2 separate regions of the Homo sapiens genome follow, and region 1 is linked to region 2. A link means that fine-mapping ties the variant in region 2 to the expression of a gene that starts in the linked region. Tissue or cell type: whole blood. Region 2 holds a variant in brackets; the other region holds the start of a gene. All regions are shown on one strand. Distances are from middle to middle. Region 1 holds the start of CTSL (cathepsin L). Region 2 overlaps LOC124902198 (a long non-coding RNA gene).

What was found.
Region 1: CTSL starts here. The variant in region 2 is fine-mapped to the expression of CTSL in whole blood (TOPMed, PIP above 0.99).

Annotation. Positions count from the first base shown.
Region 1 is chr9:87,719,997-87,732,160 of GRCh38, reverse strand. CTSL (cathepsin L) reads right to left here and starts at 6,042. Exons shown (of 8, transcript NM_001912.5): 1 at 5,763-6,042; 2 at 4,432-4,567; 3 at 4,012-4,134; 4 at 3,765-3,911; 5 at 3,352-3,576; 6 at 2,426-2,588; 7 at 1,663-1,780; 8 at 692-1,153. The coding sequence starts at 4,557. The coding sequence ends at 1,054. RefSeq lists a silencer at 1-1,053, promoters at 4,725-5,145, 4,725-5,764, 5,969-6,179, 6,018-6,199, 4,557-6,199 and 7 more, cis regulatory regions at 5,146-5,379, 5,380-5,525, 6,101-6,102, 6,125-6,128, 6,139-6,142 and 12 more and enhancers at 5,730-6,251, 9,666-9,715.
Region 2 is chr9:87,741,530-87,753,693 of GRCh38, reverse strand. LOC124902198 (a long non-coding RNA gene) reads left to right here. Exons shown (of 2, transcript XR_007061644.1): 2 at 1,337-1,941. It also overlaps the pseudogene EIF3JP3. Among named protein-coding and RNA genes, the nearest start is that of CTSL, 21 kb to the right of the region's middle. The variant A/G (reference allele first, on the strand shown) is at 6,780.

The DNA of each region.
Region 1 (12,164 bases), 22 kb after region 2:
CTATTCATTGGACATTCTCATCTGTTCTTTATATTTCCTTCAGTTGGAACAAGAGACTTCTGAAAACACACAGGTGATGGAAGTATGGGCTGTTTAGCTAGTGCGATGTGGGAAGTTTTTCTATTTAAAAAAAAATAAATCAGGTATTTTCAGGTAGCTTGCTCTAAATAGGGCAACAGATTGTCATTTCTAGCCTCTCACTTGTCTTTTATTTTCTGAGGCCAGAGCACCACTTCTGAACCCCAGCCTCAAACCCTGAAGTTTATTCCTCATCCCTTGAGGACCCAAAAACAAACAGCCTTGGCAATGCACTAGTTCTTAACCCACCTTGACTGCAAAGTGTCCACAGGGCCTTCACCAGCAGTGGGCGAAGATGCTCCAGAAACAGGCTGAGACCTTTGCCCTGTAACTTGACTGAGATGCAACCACTTTGGGTGAAATAAACACGATCACTAAAGTCCTTTTCTAGTATTAAAATTATATATATGTATGTTCACTTTTCTAAAAAGTGAATATTTTTCTTTATTCAAACAATTTTCCTTTGTCCTCATAGATCATTTTCAAATTTTGCTGCAATCAAGGATTGGTTAAGACATAGCCACTGGGCAGCTGACATGAGATCTGTACATCTGTGACTAGAAGACCCAGAAGGCCACCCACTCTTCCTCCTAGTGAGCCACTGGCACAGCAGTTATGGCTTAGAGCCCAATTATGTTCTTTATTACACAAAAATTCAGTGCATCAAAAATAGAAAGAAGCCCCACCACTACATTTGAAATTAAATTTTATTTAAACAGGTAAAAATTTATACATCCTTTTAAAAACGAAAATGCAAAGTCAGTAAGTGAATCAATAATATAAACCTATTTATAGCAGTAATTAAAATAGAGGTAACATTTACCAGTGTGAAAATATCACAGAATTCAAATCACACTCGGATCTTCAATGATTCGAGTGTGTATCCGACACAGCGGGGGCTGGTAGACTGAAGATGAATTCCTCCCATGCATGCGCCATCCCCAGTCAAGTCCTTCCTCATCACCGTCCACCAGCTCACACAGTGGGGTAGCTGGCTGCTGAGGCAATTCCACAATGGTTTCTCCGGTCTTTGGCCATCTTTACGTAGCCACCCATGCCCCATTCTTCACCCCAGCTGAAAAAAGAGCAGGTTTTCCATTTCAGAGAAAGAATAAAGCCCAAAGGGTTATTAACAGGAACACCCAACTTAAACACTGTGCCAGAGGCCATAGACTTAACAGAAAGAATCAGGACAGGCAATGTTCCTGTTTATCCTTAAAAAATTCTTGACATAACCTGGACATAATTTCCATCCCAGCCTCCAAACTGTGACCTTTCACAGAACTACAGATCAGAGACAGGAAAACAATAGGATGTCTTTGCAGCCAGATATGCCTCAGAATTTAAAAACTGTTCAGATTTAGATACACCTTTATACAATGGAACAAATACTATATTCATACTCCCAAGATATTTGTGACAGTTTCTTACTTTTATAATCAAACATTAATATTATATGTTCAACTTAGACTTCTGGGGATTTCAGAAGTATGCCTAAGGGCATGTGGAACTGTATCCAAACACTGTTTGCAAATAAGTATTCTCTTTTGAATTTCAAATGTAAGTATTTCTGGCAATTTATACCTGTTCTTCACCAGCCAATATTTATTGTTATCTGATTCTGTGCTTTCAAATCCGTAGCCAACCACCAGCACACCATGATCCATGTCTTCACTGCTACAGTCTGGCTCAAAATAAATGCCTGGGATGGTAAAATGAGGGCTGGGGTGAGAAGCTCCAGAGGACACATGACAGTAACCCATCCTGTCACCCACAGGGAATGAGGCATCTCTGAATTCAGTGAAGTGACACACATTCCAGATAGTACTTAACAACAATAAGAAGGCCAGGGATTTAAGCTCTCATTTACAACTAGCAGAAATAGAAATCAGCATAAATCCTTCATTAAAAAAAAGCTTTCCTAGAGGAAAAAAAGACCCCTCTTTGTAAGCTTGTAATTCTACTCTAGGATATCAATCTAAAAAAATAGCACAGAACACTAAAATCCTTGAATCAAAAGGCTCTTTTCGGATTTAATAATAGAAGTAAAAATCTTTGGAAAAATTATAAAAATCCAACAATTGCAGAATATTTTAAGTATATTAAACTACACAGTAAATATAGCTATTTATAAAAAGTTATGAAGTACTTATATTCATGGAGATATACGCAACATAATGTCAAATGGAAACATCAGGTATAAATATTGCATGTACAGAATGAACAACTATGATGCTAAGCACCTAAATATCTACACTGAACTTTACTTGCAAACCAGAGTCTATCATGCTCGTATGTCATGATACTCTTTTTCTGCATCAATTTCTACAAAGAAAAATATGCTTACCTTCTTTATAGAACAGGAAGGACTCATGACCTGCATCAATAGCAACAGAAATGGGCCCCACAGTTGCAACTGCCTTCATCAGGGCCTTCTCCTGCTTAGGGATGTCCACAAAGCCGGTGTCATTAGCAACAGAATACTTGGGATTGTACTTACAGGATTCTTCCTTTCAAAGGTAAAGGGAAAAAAAAGACTTGATTACTGCTGTCCTCCTCCTGGAGAACATGAGTTAGAACCACAACACTCAGCAGTGTGCAGCTTAGTATTTCCAAGTCACCACTGTTATAAATCATCCCAGGAAGTGAAATGCTATTAGTTAATCTGAAACTGAAAATTGACTCCAGTCTCTTCAATGAGACCTCTGGGTTTACTTCCATAAGACATTTTTCACAATAGAGAAATGTGTATATTTAGAATGGCTTGTATATTCTTCACGTTACATAGAAGCAAGAACAGCTATATGTTACCCATCTAATCACAGGATTGTGCAAAGGCTAATAATTTATAATGACAGTACTGACAATTTGCAGATATATATTCTGCCATCTAATATGTGAACTTTTTTTTTTTTTTGGAGACAGGGTCTCATTCTGTCACTCAGACTGGAGAGTGCATTTGCACAACCACCTCCCACACTCAAGCAATCGCCCTACCTCAGCATAGCTGGGACCACAGACGCACACCACCACAGCCGGCTAATTTTCGTTGTATTTTTGATAGAGTCAAGGTTTCACCTTGTTGCCCAGGCTGGTCTCAAACTCCTGAGCTTAAGCCATCTGCCTGGCTCAGCCTCCTAAAGGGCTGGGATTACAGGCGTGAGCCACCCCACCCAGCCCTAATATATGAATTCCGAAAAAGGTATCTGTTATCTCTTAAAGTGTCCACCTTCCAAAAGCTGAGCTGGAATGATGACAAGGAGCTCCACTTACTGTTGCCTCATATGGATAGGATTCCTCAGAGTCCAGGCCTCCATTATCCTGAACATACTGGAAAGCATAATCCATTAGGCCACCATTGCAGCCTTCATTGCCTTGAGGCCCAGAGCAGTCTACCAGATTCTGCTCACTCAGTGAGATAAGCCTCCCAGTTTTCCGGAACATCTGTCCTTCAAGAGCACCAGTAGCACTAAAAGCCCAACAAGAACCACACTGACCCTGAAAAGGGAATTAAAAAAAGCTGTCATCCACAAAAAAAAAATAATAAGACTTTGACAACAGCTCACACATCTGAATACTGTTAAAAAGTGAACTGTACATCACTTTAAAGTCTACCAAAACAAAGATGTCAATCACTTCTTGGCTTTCCTGGGAAGATGGGAGGTCTGAACCTGACACTGTCTCACCTGATTCTTCACAGGAGTCACGTAGCCTTTCTCTCTCCAATCCACAGATCTGGGGGCCTCATAAAACAGAGGTTCCTGGAACACTTTCCCCTTCCTGGGCTTACGGTTTTGAAAGCCATTCATCACCTGCCTGAATTCTTCACTGGTCTTCAAGGAAAAGGAAATAAAATGTTGAAAAGCAAGAGATTACCTTAGTAAAGAACCGAAGAGAGGAAGCACAGAGCTCGGCAGTCCACAGCACACTTACCATGTCTCCAAAGGCGTTCATGGCCATTGTGAAGCTGTGTTTCCCTTCCCTGTATTCCTGATTGTGCAGTTCAATCATCTTCATGTTCTTCTCCCACACTGCTCTCCTCCATCCTTCTTCATTCTAGAGGCAAACATGTAACTGATGCTCTTTACTTCTACCTAAAACCCAACTCATCCTCACCAAGTGAATCTGCAGACAGAGATGGAAGAGAAACCATGGCAAGGGAAGGCTTGACACCTCTGGGGATGCTGTTCTCCAAACTGAGACACAACAAGGATGAATGTCCACATTGTGCTCATAATCCACGCCATTAGGTTATTACATTAGGCTATTGGTAAAAGCTGGCCTCTAGAAGCTACTCTCTGACTAAAACTTCTCAACAGCCAGGACTATTCTTTCTGGGGAAGTTTCACTAACCATGCCGTATAATCTGTTGTGCATCGCCTTCCACTTGGTCCACTGTGCCTCTAAACTGTGATCAAATGTTAGAGTAGCTGAGGCAATTCCCAGGCAAAAGGCAGCAAGGATGAGTGTAGGATTCATGTTTTAAAACCTAGGAAGGGAACAAAAATGAGGATCTGATTAGACCAATCCTAAAAAGCCATCTTACTGCCCCCTGAAAAATTAGGGCCACCATGGTAGAATAAAAATATTTAAATTATTCTCCCAAGCATTTACCCAAGGACTGTGGAAGAGGCCAAGGATGTGCCTGGAGAAAAACAGGGCACGTGGAGGTACTGGATGGACTCACCAAAATGAAAAGCAGCCTGTCCAGAGCTGTAGGAGCTGAAACAGTTTATGCGATGACAATTTAGGTTATGAGAACGGTATGAAACTACCTTGTGTGTGAGAAGCTTAAGGCAACAACTAGGAAACCGGGAAACGGTTGATCCAGGTTTTGTACCAATCGCAAAAAATCCAGGTTTCGTGCCCAGGCAAAACCTCACTAATGATAAGGTGGGATTCCCAAGTAGGGACAAAGAGATCCCCAAGAGTTAGGAGGCCTTCACACATCTTCCTGACTAACAAACACCAAAAGCTGAGATAAGTTTTCCAATCTCTCCTATTTATTTATTTATTTATTTATTTATTTATTTATTTATTTTTTGAGATGGAGTCTTGCTCTGTGGCCCAGGCTGGAGTTCAACGGCGCGATATCGGCTCACAGCAACCTCTGCCTCCCGGGTTCAAGCCATTCTTCCTCAGCCTCTTGAATAGCTGGAACTACAGGCGTGCGCCGCCTCGCCCGTCTAATTTTGTATTTTCAGTAGAGACGGGGTTTCACCATGTTGGCCAGGCTGGTCTCGAACTACTGACCTCAGGTGATCCGCCCACCTCAGCCTCCCAAAGTGCTGGGATTACAGGAGTGAGCCACCGCGCCGCCCCAACCTCTCCTTAAATGAAACCTTTCTGAAATGCTTTCCCAGGAAAAACTGGGAAGGAGAGCACGCACTGCTCCCTCCTTCATTCACTTGGGCCTGTGCTGCCGACACCCCAAACTGCTCCCCTAAATCAGGGACGGGGTCATATGGCCGCACGCGGGAAGCCAGCGCCCTGCAGCCAGCTTCCAGGGCTCCAGGCGTGGCAGGGCCGGGGACATGACGCCTGCGCCACACACTGGCTGTAGCGGTCAGAGGATGTTTGCGGTGACGCCAGCAGGAGTACCGCTGTCTGGCGTGCGGGGACTGAGCTTCCCTGTCTGGCCGGGCCAGGCCCTGAGTCGGCGCGGCGCGGCCTGGCTGCGGTACCTGTGTCCACCCGGCTCGGAGGCTGGCCTGCCCGCTCAACCAGTCACGCGCCTCCGCGGGGTCCTCAACTGCCCTCCCCGGCTTCCCCACCTCAAGGCCAGCAGAGTTCGGGGTAGACGCTCTCGTTGCCAGGGCTGGTGCACACCTACTCGACCGCGTCCTCTCTTCCAGTCCCTGTCCGGCCACAGCTGGGCCTGGCCGGCGGCGCTTTCCTGCTGCGGTCGTAGCTGCGCAGGCGCACTCCACGGATGCCGCTCAAGGTTGCGGAGGTCGCGGTTCTGGCCCAGCTTCGCCTGACTCTGCTTCTAAAACCTCGGGTCTGGGTTCGGCCGGCACCGCCCCGCCGCCTGGCTGCGCTGCGATTGGCTGTGCCGGCAGCTGGGCGGGGACTCTGGGTGCTCTGATCCCTGGCGCGGTTCGTGGCTTGTTTACTGACTGTCCCAGAGCTGGGCGTGCCTGCCTCAGTGGACCTGGAGGAAGCAGAGCTGGTGCCCCGGGGCGGCGCAGAGTAGGGTCGGGCGTCTCCCTGGAGCGCTCGAGTCAACTAAGTACACGACTTACTGCACTGGGCGAGTGGCTCCTGAAAAGACGTTTACCGCAAGCCCTGTGTGGACTGTTTCAGCCTAACCTTGCTATTCCTTAGTCCTGGAATTTTTGGTCCGCAGAGCCGAGAGTCAAGTGTACTCTAGTCCAGTGGCTCCTGTTTAGTCCACAGCAAACGTGGGGCCGGGTGGACGAACGCAGAGCCCGCGGGCAGAAGCCTTATCTCCCACTTAAGGGTGGGTGCAGCTGGGCTTTAGAAGAATCTGGTAAGGAAAGGCATCCCCAAAACACGAGATGCTATCGTCAAGACCAGACCCTAGGAGGGAGGAGACTGGCTGCGTCTCCAGAGAGCGCGGGCGTTTTGTCAAGCATCCTTTCCAGACTCCTCCATTCAGGGATTCTTCCTTCTCCCACGTCTTACCCAAAACCAACAGAAATGAGTTATTTACAGAAACATTTGGTTGACAGGAGAAAAGCAGTTGAGAACATTAGAAGCTGCTTTTATTCGCCCACTCTCTAGGCTATGGATTATATCTTCCTTGGTAACCAAGTCGTTCTCTTGAGATTTAAGAAATTTAATGACATTTAATGTCAGGATTTAAGATACAGAGAATGGAGAAATGTTGTAGATAGAGGAAAAATATGTATCTTAATCTGTATAATGTAGATATTAATTTATGTAATTAAGGATTTAAGGAACAAAACCCACAAACATTCTAAACTTTTGTCATTTCATTTTTTATTACATAAAAACATTCATTGTAGAAAATACCTTTCGGGGAAAAAAATAATTACCTCTGCCTTTACCCCATAACCTTTTCGTATGCATATTTTGACTTTGTTAAAAATGAACAAAGTCCATTGATTTCTATTGAAGATTAAACTGATAACTCTTTTAGAAGCACAATCACCTATAGTTTTTTAAGTGGTAAAATATACCTCACATAGCAAGTACCATTTTAACCAACTTTGAGTTCAGTAGCATTAAGTACCTTCACATTGTGTAACCATTACTACTGTTTATTCCCAGAGCTTGTTTATCTTCCTAAACTGAAACTGTATCCATTGAATAATAGTTCCCCATTCCCCCTCTCCTAGCTCAGGTATCTACCATTATATTTCCTGTCTGCAGGAATTTGTTTACTATTTTGGAGATTATTCCTCTTTTTTTTTTTTTGAGACGGAGTCTGGCTCTGTTGTTCAGGCTGGAGTGCAGTGGCGCAATCGCAGCTCACTGCAATGTCTGCCTCCTGGGTTCAAGTGATTCCTCTGCCTCAGCCTCCAGAGGAGCTGGGACTACAGGCGCGCACCACCACGCCTGGCTAATTTTTGTATTTTTAGTAGAGATGGGGTTTCACCATATTGACCAGACTGGTCTTGAACTCCTGACCTCGTGATTCGCCTGCCTTGGCCTCCCAGAGTGCTGGAATTACAGGTGTGAGCCACCGTGCCCGGCCGATTATTCCTCTTTTTATGCATTGCTTCTCTGGAGAACCAGTCACAATGTGTAGAATACAATCTAACTGTGATATCTGTCCTAGTCTCTTTTCTGTTGCTAATAACAGAATACCTGGAACTGTGTAATTTATGAGAACAACATTTATTTCTTACAGTTTTCGAGGCTGGGAAGTCTGAGGTCCAGGAAGTGTATCTTGTGAGGGCCTTCTTGCTTGTGGGGATTCTTTGCAGAGGCCCAAGGTGGTGTAGGGCATCACAGGGCGAGAGGGCTGAGTGTCCTAGCTCAGGTCTCTTCCTCTTCTTTTAAAGCCATCAGTCCTGCCTGGGCGCAGTGGCCCACACCTGTAATCCCAGCACTTTGGGAGGCCGAGGCAGTCAGATCACTTGAGGTCAGGAGTTTGAGACCAGCTTGGCCAACAGGGTGAAATCCTGTCTCTACTAAAATACAAAAATTAGCCAGGCGTGGTGGTGCACACCTGTAATCCCAGGTACTTGGGAGGCTGAGGCGGGAGAATCACTTGAACCTGGGAGGTGGAGGTTGCAATGAGCCGAGCCGAGATCACGCCACTGCACTCCAACCTGGGTGACAGAGCGAGACTCCATCTCAAAAAAAAAAAAAAAAAAAAAAAAAGCCATCAGTCCCATTCCCAAGATAACCTGTTGGTCTATGAACCCATTATTCCATGAATAGATTAATGTATTCATTAGGGAAGAGCTCATATGTCCTAATCACCTCTTAAAGGCCCCACATTTTAATGCTGCCACATTGGAGATAAGTTCCAACAAGAGTTTTGGAGGGGGCAAACAAGGAAACCATAGCAGTATTTAAATTTATTATTTTATGAAATAAAAACAATATTTCTGTGGTGTTAGGTAACTGGAGTACCTACGTCTGCCTTGGTTCTAACTTTGCAGATTTCAGGATCACAAGAAGTTCATTGGAACAGCTGAATGTTTCTACCGGGGGCTTAGAGCTCACTTGGTCCTTCATGAGTTCCTTACTGGGGAGTGTGAGAGAAACTGCTCAGATGGCCTCCCCTTCCCCAAATTTGAAAGAGAAAGAGAGAGAGTTGTGAGTGAGTGGCTTTGCTCTCCAGCACTTGCTTAGTGAAGAGCCTCAGAATCTGGACTGTGGCCTCCCAGTTCTGAGGAACCCCATTCGCCACCAGGAGGGGTGGCATGTTCACCCCGTTATTCAGGAAGGAATTGGAAAACAAACAATCGAGGGTGTGAGGTCAAGAGCTAGAAAATCGCAAGCCTCTGGCACCTGAGCCAGGGCAGATGCTGGGAGCACCTGCAGGATACTCCCATATTCTGCCACCTTGGTACTTATCAGCCTCTGAGAACTGAAGCCGGACCCTTTCTTTGCTTGAGCAGAAGATCAGACCAAAGAGCTCATTGACTCAAGGAGCATCATGGCAACTGGGCTGTACCCGGAGGGGAAGAATCCAGGGTCTGATCCACAACCAAGGCCTGAAGAAGTGGGGCCTGTACTTGACCTACCCAGGGTGAGTCATGACCCAAGTGCTGGGGCTCTAGCCATGGGTGGTCCTTCCAACCATTTCCAGCTTCCTCCTGCAGAGGGGCTGGTGTTTTTCTTCATTTTCCATAACCTCCTTGGGAGCACAGGCTTTGGTTTCTGCCTTCCCTGGATCAGGTCTCCCACAATGCAGTTGCTCTAACAAAAACTATTAGCAACAACATAGTACCACAGAAGCCAGCTCCTTGCTAGCAGTGATTGCTGATGATATTGTCTTCTAGAGACCATTCTAATGACTAGACAGCCTCGGTGCAGGAGGAGCTGTTGTCGGTCATGAGGAGCATTTCCTTGTCTATGTAGAGGAACTGAAACCGATGTGGCCAGCAAAATTTACCCAAAGCAATCACTGGGATACTCATCACACCCTCATGGCCCATTGTATCACTTTTGTTCCCTATATATGTGGTCCCATTTCCTCAGGACCAGTACTCCCTTATGTGGGGAGCAGGACTGATGCCTTGAGTTACTTATAGTGACTCGTTAGTTGGGGGATTTGCTAGTATTTTCATCAAACTTGAATCTAGTGAAACATTTGATTGAACTGGCTTCCAAATTGAAAATAAACCAACACCACTCAGGAAACCTATTTACAGCGAGAAGTCAGGAGTGGGAATGCATCTTGCACTGTCACCTTGATTAACAATAGCTCTGACCTGTGGGAGGACGGTCCTCTCTCCTGTAACAAACATAGGGTAGTGATGGGCCAGGTCCTGCTGCTCCTACATTCTCATCACTTAGATAAGCACAGGCAGGTGACTGCAAGCCTTCCAGCCTCCACCAGCATCCTCCAGTTCTCCCCTGACCGCTCTCATTCATATTCCGCACTGATTCAGAGGTCCAGTCCTGAGTGGCAAAAAGAAACATGCGTGAGCCTTTCTAGAAATCAATCAATCATTCATGGATTATAGTGAATTCTTCCCTACTAAACACATCTCCAGAAATTCAGGCGTAGTAACTCCCTTCCTGAATGTCTTTCCAAGGCCCTAAGTGACATTGATGTTCCATAGACAATGTCTTACACGGCAAAGTGCTTCTGGGGGTGGGAACCTGCTGACCTTCCCTGGAATCCTGACTGCAGGTTCTGTTTAGAACATGGGGTCTCATTTTGAGAAGCTCTTGGTATTTATCATTCACGGGAAGTTCACAGGTTCCAGAAAACACTGGACAGCATTCAGGGGAAAGAAAAGGGGCAGAGATGGAGACACCTGGTCAGTTTGGCCAGAGCATCCTGGGGGAAATGCACTGAGGGACAGAGGGGCAAATGCACATGGGTGGTGGGGAGAGGAGCAACGCAGATAGCAAAGACACTGTCCAGACAACCTCCCAACTCAGGAGAAGGGACTGAATCCAAGAGGAGAAGAGGAGGGATGAGGCTGGGTGCTGAGGCATGCCCCAAAGTCTTTGAAGTCTGAAAATCAGACACCCGTAGACTTGATTTTGGTGTCCTGATAGAAAAACAAAAACAATGCTAGCCATAATTTTTAAAGGCTTTCATATTTTGGGAAATAAGCTTCTCATTTGAGGCTAGATTTAGTTCCTTCCCTCTGAAACATGTTCAATTCATGATTTCTACTTAATTCAGATTTTCTAGTTTTGTAACAACTTAAGCTGGTTGATCTAGCTTTGCAGGCAGGCAGGCAGGCAGGAAGGAAGGAAGAAAGGAGGGAAAAGAAGGAAGGAAGGAAGGAAAGAAACAGTAAAAGAAAAAAAAGGAAAGAAGGAAGGAAGAAGACTACAAAAGTCTCAACATGAAGTGTTTCTGCAAGTAAACAAGGAATTCCTGCTTTTGTACCAAGGACTCCATAGTTGTCTGGACTCCTTAGGGGCCACAAGGCCACTGGCCGTGATGTTTCAGTGAACTGTGAAACAAAGCACTGACCCGCTGCTGTTCCACCATGATGCCTCCAATCTCTGGGCCTCGAGGGAAGATAGTATTCGTTCATTCTGAAAATACTTATTTAGGATGTACCACTTGTCTGGTGAGTGGTGAGCATGATGGCTGACAGGCAGACACAGGCAATAATCAAGTACACAAGTAAAGAGTAATTAAGTCCGCTTATTTTGGAATTAAATAATTTGGAGTTCAAGTCATAGTTCAGTTTTTGACAACCATGTCACTTTGGGTGAGACACTTAAATGTATAGAGCCTGCACTTCCTCACTTGTAAAGGGGAATTAAAAATGTGGGTATTGAGAAGATTGAAGCAGATAGGTTAGGTAGTGCTTAGAAGGCAGTTCCAAGCACACAGCTACTATTCTTCTTACAAATGTTTTGGAAGGTTAGAGTGCCCCTGAATCATTGAAACACTCTTATGAGAGCCATACCTTAACACATATTACTGAAGATGTTAGATAGAATTGTCGAAAAACACAGAAAAGTAATGAAGAATGTGACAAGCCCTTGAGACCTGGGGAAGGCCAGTCAACTGAAGTCTTAGGACAGAGCAGAGAGAGATGGATTAGGGATATAGGGCCATAAGCATGATCTGGAGCTATGCCAACCCACTATCTCTGGTGAGCTCTTTTCCATGGTTTGATGTAGGGTGAAGGAGCTCCTGGGCCCTTGGAGTTTCTCAGCCAAAACAGCTCCCATCATCATTGCTTTCTCCCCTGTTGTTTTTTGGTTGTTGAGCCCAAAAGTGTGTGATGCCTCGAAAGAGGTTAAAGGTGGGCATCACCTCTCCCTAAAATGCAAGCTTAACCGGCAGTGGCCCATCTGGAAGGCTTGTGTTTTTCTCCTTCTTCTCTTGCATATTCTCAGAAACATAATAAGCACATCAAAAAATGACTTTTCTTGATTTCTAGCCAGAAAAATCAGGACTTCCTTGACTTTTAGTGGACTGACCATTGTGTTGTCCTGGA
Region 2 (12,164 bases):
GACTTGCTTACAATGAAAAGCATATGGCAGAAATAATGGAATGTCTCTTTTGAGCTTAGGTTACGAAAGACTTCAGCTTCTTTTTTGGTTGTTCTCTCTCTCTCTTTTGGACTGCTTTCCATAGGGAAAACCAACTGTCATATCATGAGGCAGCCTCATAAAGGGGCCCATGTGTTAAGAGACTGAAGTCTGCCAAAAACCACGTGTGTGAGCTTGGAAGCACATCCTGCAGCACCAGTTGAGCCTTCAGATGAAACAGCAGCCCCAGTCTGTAGTTTGACTGTAACCTTACAGACTGTGAGGCAGAGGCATCCAGCTAAGTTGGGCCCAGCTGCAATTACAAACTGATATAGCCATTCAGGTTTTTAAGGTTGTTTTTACCACTTCATAACCTGCCTACTCCTGACTTATACAATGCCTCCCTCCATGTATTCCCCAAAATATAGACATTCACCGAAGTCCTTCCTTGACCTTTCTTTCATGTTAACCACTTTTATAATATCAGCTTCCAATTCCATGTGGATGGATGACTTTGAAATATGTATCTGTTAACACTGAATTCTTTCCTGACTGGGCTATACTTCAAACTTTACATTTTTTTTTACTAGACCTACCTAGAAATCCTCTGGTACTTCAAACTTTACTAAAGACAAAATAAATGGTCTTTATCTTCATAACTGTTTTGCTTTCTGGGTTTCTCTTTTCTTTTCATGATATCACTTTAGCCTTGGCAGTGAAGTCACTGATATCATGAACAGAAGGGAGAGATCCAGGAAGCAAAACAATTATGAAGATAAAAACCGTTTGTTTTGTCTTTAGTAAAGTTTGAAGTACCACAGGAATCCCTTTAAAATAAGTTGTAACATCTGACATTTGTCATTTGTAAAATTAATGAGTATACTTTTTATGCTATCACCCAAGTCAATGAGAAAAAAAAATTACAGTAATATCAACTCAGGAGTGACTAACATGGATATTAAGTCATTGACCATGGTCAAAACCTTTGCTACTAACAGCCAAATAGGCTACTCTAGACTGCACCTTTTTAGGTTGTCTTGTGGTATTCATGAACTGTAACCATTTTAAGATGTTAAAAATTAAATCTTTCTTATGTAATTAAAAAAATAATCCTATAAACTCTTAAAAAAATCTTTGAGACCATAAAGAGGAAATAGACCCATATAATTAGGCATTCCCCATTCCCTGTATATGATCCCTTCAACATGCCAAAACCAGGGCAATCTCAATATGAGATTTGGAAGTTCTGCTGAGTTACTAAGTCCACTCTGGTACTTTATGTTTGTTATTTCTTGTGTCTTATTCCCTCCCCCATTAGTTGCTGCCTCCCTGACTTGGTCTCATTGTCCTCAAATCAGACCTGCAGCTACGGTCCAAAGCATCTGTAAACTTCATCCTCAAATGCACAGGATCCACTGAGGACCCAACTTGTACTGCTGAGAACTAACCTACCTTCTGAACAAGGAGTCTGATGTTTCTTTGGGATCATTGTTAGAATGCCAGATAAAATAACATGTAAGAGTTCATTGTAGATCACACAGTCTGATCCGAGGAAGCAATAATCCCTTCTTTTAAATGCATTTTCTAGTCACAGTGTCCTCTGTCCAGGTGCTGATCTCCCACTCTAGAAGGAGGAATCAGCAATGGCTGAAGGCACAGGTCTCCCAGGTTCACAGTCCCACTGCCGGGCAATTAAAAAGCCTTGGTACATCACACTCTGGGGACTGTTGTGGGGTGGGGGGAGGGGGGAGGGATAGCACTGGGAGATATACCTAATGCTAGATGACGAGTTAGTGGGTGCAGCGCACCAGCATGGCACATGTATACATATGTAACTAACCTGCACATTGTGCACATGTACCCTAAAACTTAAAGTATAATAATAATAATAATAATAAATAAAAAAGAATAAAATAAAATAAAATAAAATAAAAAGCCTTGGTGTTGGGGTGTTCTGCCTGAGTGTTTCCTTGGCCAGCATCCCAGATTTGTGGTTCACGGAGCAAGGTCCATACAAGGTCACCATTGCCAGGCTAATTATTGTCTACACTGGGGATGTGGCCTGTGAATCCTCTAAATCCACCCACAGTGCACAGTACCCTACTCCTCATGCACACTTCCAACTTCCAAATTTCTATGTGCTTCATGTAGAAAGTTACTGACATGCAACACTCAGGAGTAGTGTCAGGGATGGTTGCAAGACTCTGCGGAAGTGAGTAGAATTTGATTAAGAAATATGTGAAGTGGTAAACGAGTGAGTTTTTCCCCAAGTTCAAAGGGATAAATGAAACTAAATAATGATTTGAATGATATAAGAAACATGTTTTAGTTATATCAGAAGGACAAACAAAACTGTTACATATCCCATCTCCCCAACCAAAGCATCTTGAGGACAGAGACTTTGTTTTACAGTGTAGGGGTCCCCAGTATATGATAGACACCCAGTAAATACCATGGCAGAATGATAATTAGGCTAAGAGAAGAATTGTTGCTAATTTGGCTACAACTCCCCGGGACCCTGGCACTTTGCCCACAGCTCAGTGGGTCTCAGGTGGACTTGGGGAATTTCTCCTGCCCCCAGGACACAGGAATCCTAGACCCTCCTTGCTATCCTAGAGATGCTTAGAAGTGCCTCAGGGAACTTAGAACTCCTGTGTTCTTTAGAGAGTCCCCATCATCAGAAGCTAGCCAGTGTCCTCAGCAGCGGTCCTCTAAGGCCTCACCACTCCATTCTCAGGGGCCTGGTGGATTCTGGAACTCTGCCAGAGTCCTGCAGGACAATGCAAGAGGTCCATGTGGGTGGCATCTGGGCTGGCAAGCCACGGGCCACCAATCCTGCCTGAACCCATCAGTTTTCAAACACAGGGAGCTGGGACCTTCTTCTGCTGCCCCTCTCCCAGGGAACCATGGAGGGACAGTGAAGAGAAAGAGAAACAGCTTGAGGTGTGTGAGATTACTGGTACAAACTAGCATGAAGGGTATTTAAGGTAAGACTCAACAAAATATCTAATCTAGTGATATCAAGAATAACAGCATAGTGGCCGGGTGCGGTGGCTCACACCTGTAATCCCAGCACTTTGGGAGGCCAAGGCAGATGGATCATCTGACGTCAGGAGTTTGAGACCAGTCTGACCAACGTGGAGAAACACCATCTCTACTAACAATAGAAAAATTAGCCAGGAGTGGTGGTGCATGCCTGTAATCCCAGCTGCTTGGGAGGCTGAGGCAGGAGAATTGCTTGAACCCAGGAGGCAGAGGTTGTGGTGAGCTGAGATCATGCCATTGCACTCCAGCCTGGGCAACAAGAGCGAAACTCTGTCTCAAAAGTAAATAAATAAATAAATAAATAAATAAATAAATAAATAAATAAAAGAAAAGAAAAAGAAAAACAGCATAGTACAGTCATCTGGGACAATGCTGTTGCATTTCCCCTAGCATCTAAGGAATTTTTAGGCATTGCCACACCAGGCAACAAAGCCTTTCTGAAGTACCATGGGGAGTTGCCCACTCAGCAAGAATAGTTTGATCATTTTGCCCAATGATGAAAGGGAAGAAAATTGGGAACTTCTCTGAACTTGCATTTCTCGCTTATATTTTTTATTTTTCTTTTGGATTGTAGAAGCAGTGAGAACTATTTATGCTTTTTCTTTTTCCTACTTATTTTGATTGAGATAAATGGGGAAGTTGATAAATAAGAATGTTTTGCTGGAAATACTAAACGTTGATAACCATAATTACGGAATACTCCAAAGCTTCCATTTTAAAACCTGTTTGCATTTCAGACATGTCTGCACTAAAACAGTAAGTGGAAAAAAATGACAAACCAATAGAAGCAACAATTCCAGTGCCCTTTGACTTTATGAGTTTCCTACTCAATGGCAAAGGTTTGGGAAGAAGATAACTCAAGTCTCATTTCTGGTATGCATAAACTTTGGGCAAATTACTTTCAGTCTCGAAGGCTTGATTTTAACCACTATAGATGTGTATAACAGCAATGACCTCATAATTTTGTGTTAAAAATTAAATAAGATACCGTGAGTGTTGATATAATCACCCATCTCCAGAATTCCTCCTTTGAAAATAGACACACAATAGAACATTCTGTGACCTTAGAAAGGAAGGAAATCATGTCCCGTGCTGCCCCATGGATGAACCCTAAGGCCATTGTCCTAAGAGTAAGAGCATGGTCACAAAAAGGAAAATATTGTGTGAATCTACTTATACAAGTTATCTAAGGCAGCTAAGTTCATAGAAATAGAAAGTAGAGTGGTGATTAGTGGGAACTGGGATGGGGAGGAAAACAGGAGTTGTTGTTTAATAGGTGTAGTTTCCATTCTACAAGATGAAAAAGTTCTGAACATCTGTTTCTCAACAAGGTATTCAATTTTTTTATTCTTGTTTTAGAGGGATTTAAGGTACCTTTGGGATCAAAAATTTTAGGAGTACTGGAAAATTGGTGGTCATATAATTCATCCACTTATGAAGAGCAGGAATATTCTAATATCCAGCACACTTCTTACTTCTGTCTGGATTATACCTCCTGCCGTGTAGCAGTTAAGTACTTCCTTTCAACAAACATGCACCATTTGTAGTGCCAGGAAGGAAATACATTTTCTCTTCCCTCTTAGGTTCACTGACTGGGAGGCTCTGCAAGTTTGACTCACAAGAGACAGATTAACAGGAGAAAATAATAGAAAGTTTACTAATATTTTACATACACAGGAGTTCACAGAAAGGAAAGGAAAGTCAAAGAAATGGCTAAACTCAGAGGCTTATGTGCCATTTTAACAAAGGAAAGAAGATTTGGGCTTTGAGGAATGATTAATTGTGGAAAAGTGACTAGGAAAACTATGTGGGAACTAATGGATTATCCTGCTTATTTAGGGAGGCTTGTTTATGCAGACTTATTTTGGTGTTGGCTCTCTGTCCCTGGTGACAAGTGTTCCCTCTCCTCATCCTGGTACAGGAGAGGGGGAAATCCATGCCACCTTAACAAAGGGAAATTTATGCCCGGGTTTTAGGCATCCGAGGGGAGAGCAGAGAAATAATCTTCTATCTATTGATTTTTAGTTTCTTTACACTCAAAATAATCCTTAAAATGGCATGCTCTGGGGCAAGGGGGGTGGAAGGGGAGGTGTCATGGTCGTTTTCACGAGCTGGATGCTGATTCTTCTTTGAATGCTCGCTAGTGTCCTTAAAATGTCACCCCCACCCGCACCCCCAGGCTCAAGCACAATATTCCAGACATGACACCATGAAATAGGCATTAACAGCACTATTTCCTCCTTTATCTTGCTTTTTAATCTCATTATTGCAAACTTTTAAAGTGTCCAAATCACGTTGATAACCATCTCAAAGTGACCAGCAACCAAAAACTAAGACTTTTTTTTTTAAGGACACTACTAAACCATTTCTACTTTTTTCTTGTAGTTGCATCACATGAATATGGCTACATATATTTTTGTTTTACTTTTGTTACTTTTTTATTTTTATTTTTTCTGACTCTTTGGCTACATATATTTTTAGATAAAATTTGACACACATACATATATTTAATCTCAACATAAGGCTTTACATTTACGCACAGTAAATTTTATTCTATTAGTTTTAAACTTTCTAGGGTTTGGAAGTCCTCTTCTTTCTGCCTTTCTGTTTAAAATCCTGATTCTTTTATTCACGGTGCATGCCCTCTGTCATGGGCATTTGTTGTTCTGCCTCCCTGGTGAAGCCATCCTGGTTTCCTGTGGAGATTGCTTTTCACAGAGCAATCCATGTGCTGTAGCTGAGGTGACCATCCCTCTCATCCTGAGGCCAGCATGGGACCCAGGCAGGGCCAAGCAGCACCAGCCCAGACACAACTGGGAAACCCACTTTCCTCCAAGGAGGATAAAAAGTGAGCCTGGCTGGGAGTGTGTGCAAAACAGAGGACAGTAGGTCCTGAAGGTGGGAAGAGATGGAGTGCTGATGACGATCTGTGAGCCCTGCATCCAGCCAGGTCTGTGCCACCCAGGTCCTCCTCTTGCATAAGTAGCTTCAACATTGGTTTCTGTCTCTTTCAGTCAACAGACTTGTCTTATAGAGCATCCCTTCAATGGTCACTGAAGCTTCGACAAATCATTTTCTTATAGGAGGGGCTGGTGTTAACAAGGGGCCCAGGGAATTAGTTCCAGAGCTGTGTTTCCCCAACAAAAACAGTTTTTGTCTTTCATGTTTGTTTGGGTGGCTTAGTGGGGTGGGATGGATTTTTGTGTGTGCCCTCAAGCACATCTACAGTGAACTCATGTTTTACAAAGTTGCCAAGAACAAACATTGGGGAAAAGACAGTTTCTTTAATAAATGGTGCTGGAAAAACTGAATATCCATGCAGAAAAATGAAACTAGACCCCTATCTCTCACTATATACAAAAATAAAATCAAAATGGCTAAAATTCGAAACCTGAAACTATGAGACTACTACACAAAAACATTGGGGAAACTCACCAGGACGTTGGTCTGGACAAAGATTTCTTGAGTAACACCCCACAAGCACAGGCAACCAAAGCAAAAATAGGCACATAGGATCATACCAAGTTAAAAAGCTTCTGCACAGCAAGGAATACAGTCAATAAAGTGAAGAGGCAACCCATAGAATAGGAGAAAATATTTGCAAACTACCCATCTGATAAGGGATTAATAACTAGAATATATAAGGAGCTCCAACAATTCTATAGGAAAAAAGTCTAATAATCTGATTAAAAAATTGGCAAAAGATCTGAATAGAC[A/G]TTTCTCAAAAGAAGACATACAAATGGCAGGCTGGGTGTGATGGCTCACGCCCATAATTCCAGCACTTTGGGAGGCCAAGGCTGGCATATCACTTGAGGCCAGGAGTTCAAGACCAGCCTGGCCAACATGGTGAAACCTCATCTGTACTAAAAATACAAAAATTAGCCAGGTGTGGTGGCACACGCCTGTAATCCCAGCTACCTGGGAGGCTGAGACAGGAGAATCACTTGAACCTGGGAGGTGGAGGTGGCAGTGAGCCGAGATCACGCCACTGCACTCCAGCCTGGGCAACTGGGCAACAGAGTGAAACTCCATCTCAGAAAAGAAGAAGAAGAAGAAGAAGAAGAAGAAGAAGACATACAAAAGACAAACAGGCATATGAAAAGGTGCTCAACGTCACTAATCATCAGAAAAATGCAAATCAAAACTACAAGGTGGTGTCATCTCACCCCAGTTAAAATGGCTTATATCCAAAAGACAAGCAAAAACAAATGCTGGAGAGGATGTGGAGAAAACATAACCCTTGTACCCTGTTGGTGGGGATGTAAATAAGTACAACCACCGTGGAGAACAGTTTGGAAATGCCTCAAAAAACTAAAAATAGAGCTACCATACGATCCAGCAATCCCATTGCTAGGTATTTACCCAAAAGAAAGGAAATCAGCATATCGAAGAGATATCTGCACTCCCATGTTTGTTGCAGGATAGCCAAGATTTGGGAGCAATCTAAGTGTCCATCAACAGATGAATGGATAAAGAAAATATACATATACACAATGGTACATATACACAAAGCACTACTATTTCAGCCATAAAAAAGAATCAAATCTGTCATTTGCAACAACATGGATGGAACTGGAGGTCATTATTTTAAGTGAAATAAGTCAAGCACAGAAGTACAAACTTCACATGTTCTCACTTCTTTGTGGAGCTAAACATTAAAACAAGTGACCTCATGGAGATACAGGGTAGAAGGATGGTTACTAGAGGCTGGGAAGGGTAGTGGGAGTGTCAAGGGAAGTGGGGATGGTTAATGGGTACAAAAAAATAGAAAGAATGAAACAAACCTAGTATTTGATAGCACAACAAGGTAACAGTAGTCAATAATAATTTACTTGCATGTGTAAAAATAACTAAAAGAATATAATTGGATTGTTTATAACACAAAGAAAGGATAAATGCTTGAGGAGATGGATACTCCATTTACTCTGATGTGATTATTACACATTGCGTGCCTGTATCAAAATATCTCACATAGCCCATAAATATATACACTTATTATGTACCCACAAAAATTACAAAGTAAAAAAGCATTTAAAGTACCTTCAAGCTTCCTGTAAGCGTCACCACCATATTCATTCAAATGACTGATAAATCTCATTGAGAGATCCAGTCAAGGACACACCCCAATTACTTGCCACCAGAAACCAAGTGCAAATTGACAGTAACGAACACTGTTTTATTTAACTGTGCCTTAGCCTTCTTTTGTTCAGGAAATCTTTTTAGCCTTCATGTTGTAAGATTTTCTCTTTAAAGTTTCAACAAAACTTCAGAAAAATTTATCCCCTTAATTTATTCCTGTTATTAAAACTTTCTTTTCTAAGTATAAGTGGGACCTTAAACCCCATTACCAAATCATTATGGTGGGATTACACTACAGATTCCAATGATCACAAGAATACTGTGGCCAGACACAGTGGCTCATGCTTGTAATCCTAGAACTTTGGGAGCCTGGGAAGTGGAGGTTGCATTGAGTCACGATCACGCTACTGCACTCCAGCCTGGGTGACAGAACCAGAAACCCTATTTCAAAAAAAAAGAACACTGCTTTCCCACCTAATAAGTACTTTTAGAAGTTACATTAGGAAAACTGACTGTTCTCACAAGGGTTCTAGAACCCATGAGTTTGAAAATTGTCTTTAATATGTATTAGGTTTGTGCAAACATAATTGCGGTTTTGCCATTTAAAAGTAACGACAAAAATCGCAATTACTTTTGCACCAACCTAATACATTGTCAGAAACATTTGGGATAAACTTAATATATAATAACATGTAGTATGTTTATATTAACATATAATAATGAGCAGTTTTTTAACTTTATTTTTGTTTTTTATTTTTCTTTTTTTTTTAATTATTTTAAGTTCTAGGGTACATGTGCACAACATGCAGGTTTGTTACATATGTATACATGTGCCATGTTGGTGTGCTGCACCGGTTAACTCGTCATTTACATTAGGTATATCTCCTAATGCTATCCCTCCCCTCTCCTCCCACCCCACGACAGGCCCCAGTATGCGATATTCTCCGCCCTGTGTTCATGTGTTCTCATTGTTCAATTCCCACCTATGAGTGAGAACATGCAGTGTTTGGTTTTCTGTCCTTGCGATAGTTTACTGAGAATGATGGTTTCCAGCTTCATCCATGTCTCTACAAAGGACATGAACTCATCCTTTTTTATGGCTGCATAGTATTCCGTGGTGTATATGTGCCACATTTTCTTAATCCAGTCTACCATTGATGGACATTTGGGTTGGTTCCAAGTCTTTGCTATTGTGAATAGTGCCGCAATAAACATACGTGTGCATGTGTCTTTATAGCAGCATGATTTATAATCCTTTGGGTATATGCCCAGTAATGGGATCACTGGGTCAAATGGTATTTCTAGTCCTACATCCTTGAGGAATCGCCACACTGTCTTCCACAATGGTTAAACCAGTTTACAGTCCCACCAACAGTGTAAAAGCGTCCTATTTCTCCACATCCTCCCCAGCACCTGTTGTTTCCTGACTTTTTAATGATCGCCATTCTAACTGGTGTGAGATGGTATCTCATTGTGGTTTTGATTTGCATTTTCTGATGGCCAGTGATGATGAGCATTTTTTCATGTGTCTGTTGGCTACGTAAATGTCTTCTTTTGAGAAGTGTCTGTTCATATCCTTCACCCACTTTCTGATGGGGTTGTTTGATTTTTTCTTGTAAATTTGTTTAAGTTTTTATAGATTCTGAATATTAGCCCTTTGTCAGATGGGTAGATTGTAAAAATTTTCTCCCATTCTGTAGGTTGCCTGTTCACTCTGATGGTAGTTTCTTTTGCTGTGCAGAAGCTCTTTAGTTTAATTATGAGCAGTTTTATAGCCATAGACTCCTATGTGCAAAAATGCATATTCTTGACCCTTCCCCTGTCTCCCATCCCCTACCTCTGTGGCTCAGGGACTCACACCCAAAGGTGACTTCTCTGCTCTCCTTTCAAATCCTTCTCATGTTCTGAACCTTCTCTAGGCTGGGGCAGAAACTGCTGTCTTTTGTTCATAGAATAAACTCCTTTAATGCTCTTTGTAATTTATTTATTTGAAATAGTTGCTTTATAAATCATTGCAAATGTCATAATTGTTAGCAATTTATCAAACTGTAGTTAACTGGTGCAGTTTGTTGAGCATATTTTATAAAGGAAAAGAAAGGAAATGCCAAAACCCTGGTAAAGTTGTTTTATTGCAGCCCAGGAGAACTAAGATTTGTTTCTCAGACACTTAAATCAGGCAAACAAAAACAGGTAAAGAGTCCTGAAGCCCCCATCTGAAGCACTTCATCAGTAGAAATAGTTTGATAAGTAATGTCACCACCCAAGGGGTTCACCTTGCCCACTGTTTAGACAGAGCCAATTTCTCAAGACAGGGGAATGGCAATAGAGAAAGAGTAATTCACAAAGAACCGGCTGTGTGGGAGACCAGAGCTGTATTATCACTCAAATTAGTCTCCCAGAAGAGCACTTGGGGAGCATAGTTTTTAAGGACAACTTGGTGGGTGGGGAGAGGCCAATGAGCCAAGACTGCTGATTGGTCAGAGAAGAAATAATAGGGAGTCGAAGCTGTCTTCTGTGCTGAGTCAGTTCCTGGGTGGGGCCACAAGGTCAGATGAGACAGTTTATTAATCTGGGTGGTGCCAGCTGATTCATTAAGTGCAGGGGCTGCAAAATATCTCACGCACTGATCTTAGGAACAGGTTAGGGAGGGTCAGAATCTTGCAGCCTCCAGCTGCATGACTCCTAAACCATAATTTCTAATCTTGTGGCTAATGTTAGTCCTGCAAAGGCAGTAGTCCCCAGGCAAGGAGGAAGTCTGCTTTGGGATAGGGCTGTTATCGTCTTTGTTTTAAACTATAAACTAAGTTTCTCCCAAAGTTACTTCAGCCTACACCCAAGAATGAACAAGGACAGCTTGGAGGTTAGAAGCAGGATGGAATCAATTCAGTTAGATCTCTTTCACTGTCTCAGTCATAATTTTGCAAAGGTGGTTTCAGTAACTAGACAGTCTTTGTATTCAAGAGAATCCACAACATGTGATGTTATAATGGAGAGGCTTACCCTCTTCAGATTCAAAGTTGGAAGGCTTTGGTCATTTAATTTTAATCAAACTAGTGCTTTTCAGCCACAGTATCTTCACTCTGGCATAAGCAGTCTTCTTCACAATGTATTTTTAATAGCCTCACATTCAATTTTAAGACAAAGCAATTTTCATACTAGGTGCATGCCACATGCCCTTGCTGCAGCTGCTTTTCTTGACAAGTTATGAAGTAGTTCAAGGAGGTATGGTTAAGGCTGTATTACTGAATAGTGCTGTTGAGTACTACACAATTTATTTTGTCTTGTTGCAGCCTTTTGTTTCCAATTTTCAGTGACTGCCGCTATGAAATCTGAAACCAAAAATGACATTATTAGGTTTGCTTTGTTTTGGACTATGATTTAGTAGCAATTGAGGTTCCTGATTTTAACCCCTTGGCAGCAAGATCCAAGCTCCCTCATTTGCACGTTAACACCTAAGTGTCAAGGGGTTAAATAACCAGCACGAAAGAGACTGCACTTTGGATTGTAGCATTTGGCAGAACTGAAAGGAAAGGAAGTTGTGCTGTGCGTTGAAGGGGTCGTGGGCAACATAAAGATGACACCAGGAAAAGATGCAATGTCACATGACATTTTCATAGTCTTGTGCATACCCTGCATCATCACCACCATAATTTACCAGATCATTTGTCATGGTGGCTTTTAATCTCCCTCCAGGAACCATACCTTTGTTCTTCTTTTTGGCTTGGCTTTGCTTGCTTCTGTTTTTCACTTCAAAGCACAATGTATTGAGAACCTTTTTCAAGTCATCAGTTTCCAATGACATACACACATCTCCAACTAAGACTTCCAAAAAACTGGCATAATATAGTGACTTTTTATTTTGTGTAATTTTATCTTTTAGTAACTTTCCAAACTCTGTAAGGTCATCCCTTGAAGATGGGTTTACAGCATCCGATCCATATACAGTAGTCTTAACACCAAAAGTTGCCTTTGCTAATTCCATGTCTGACTCTTCCTGTGATTTCTCCAGCTGCGGTTTATCT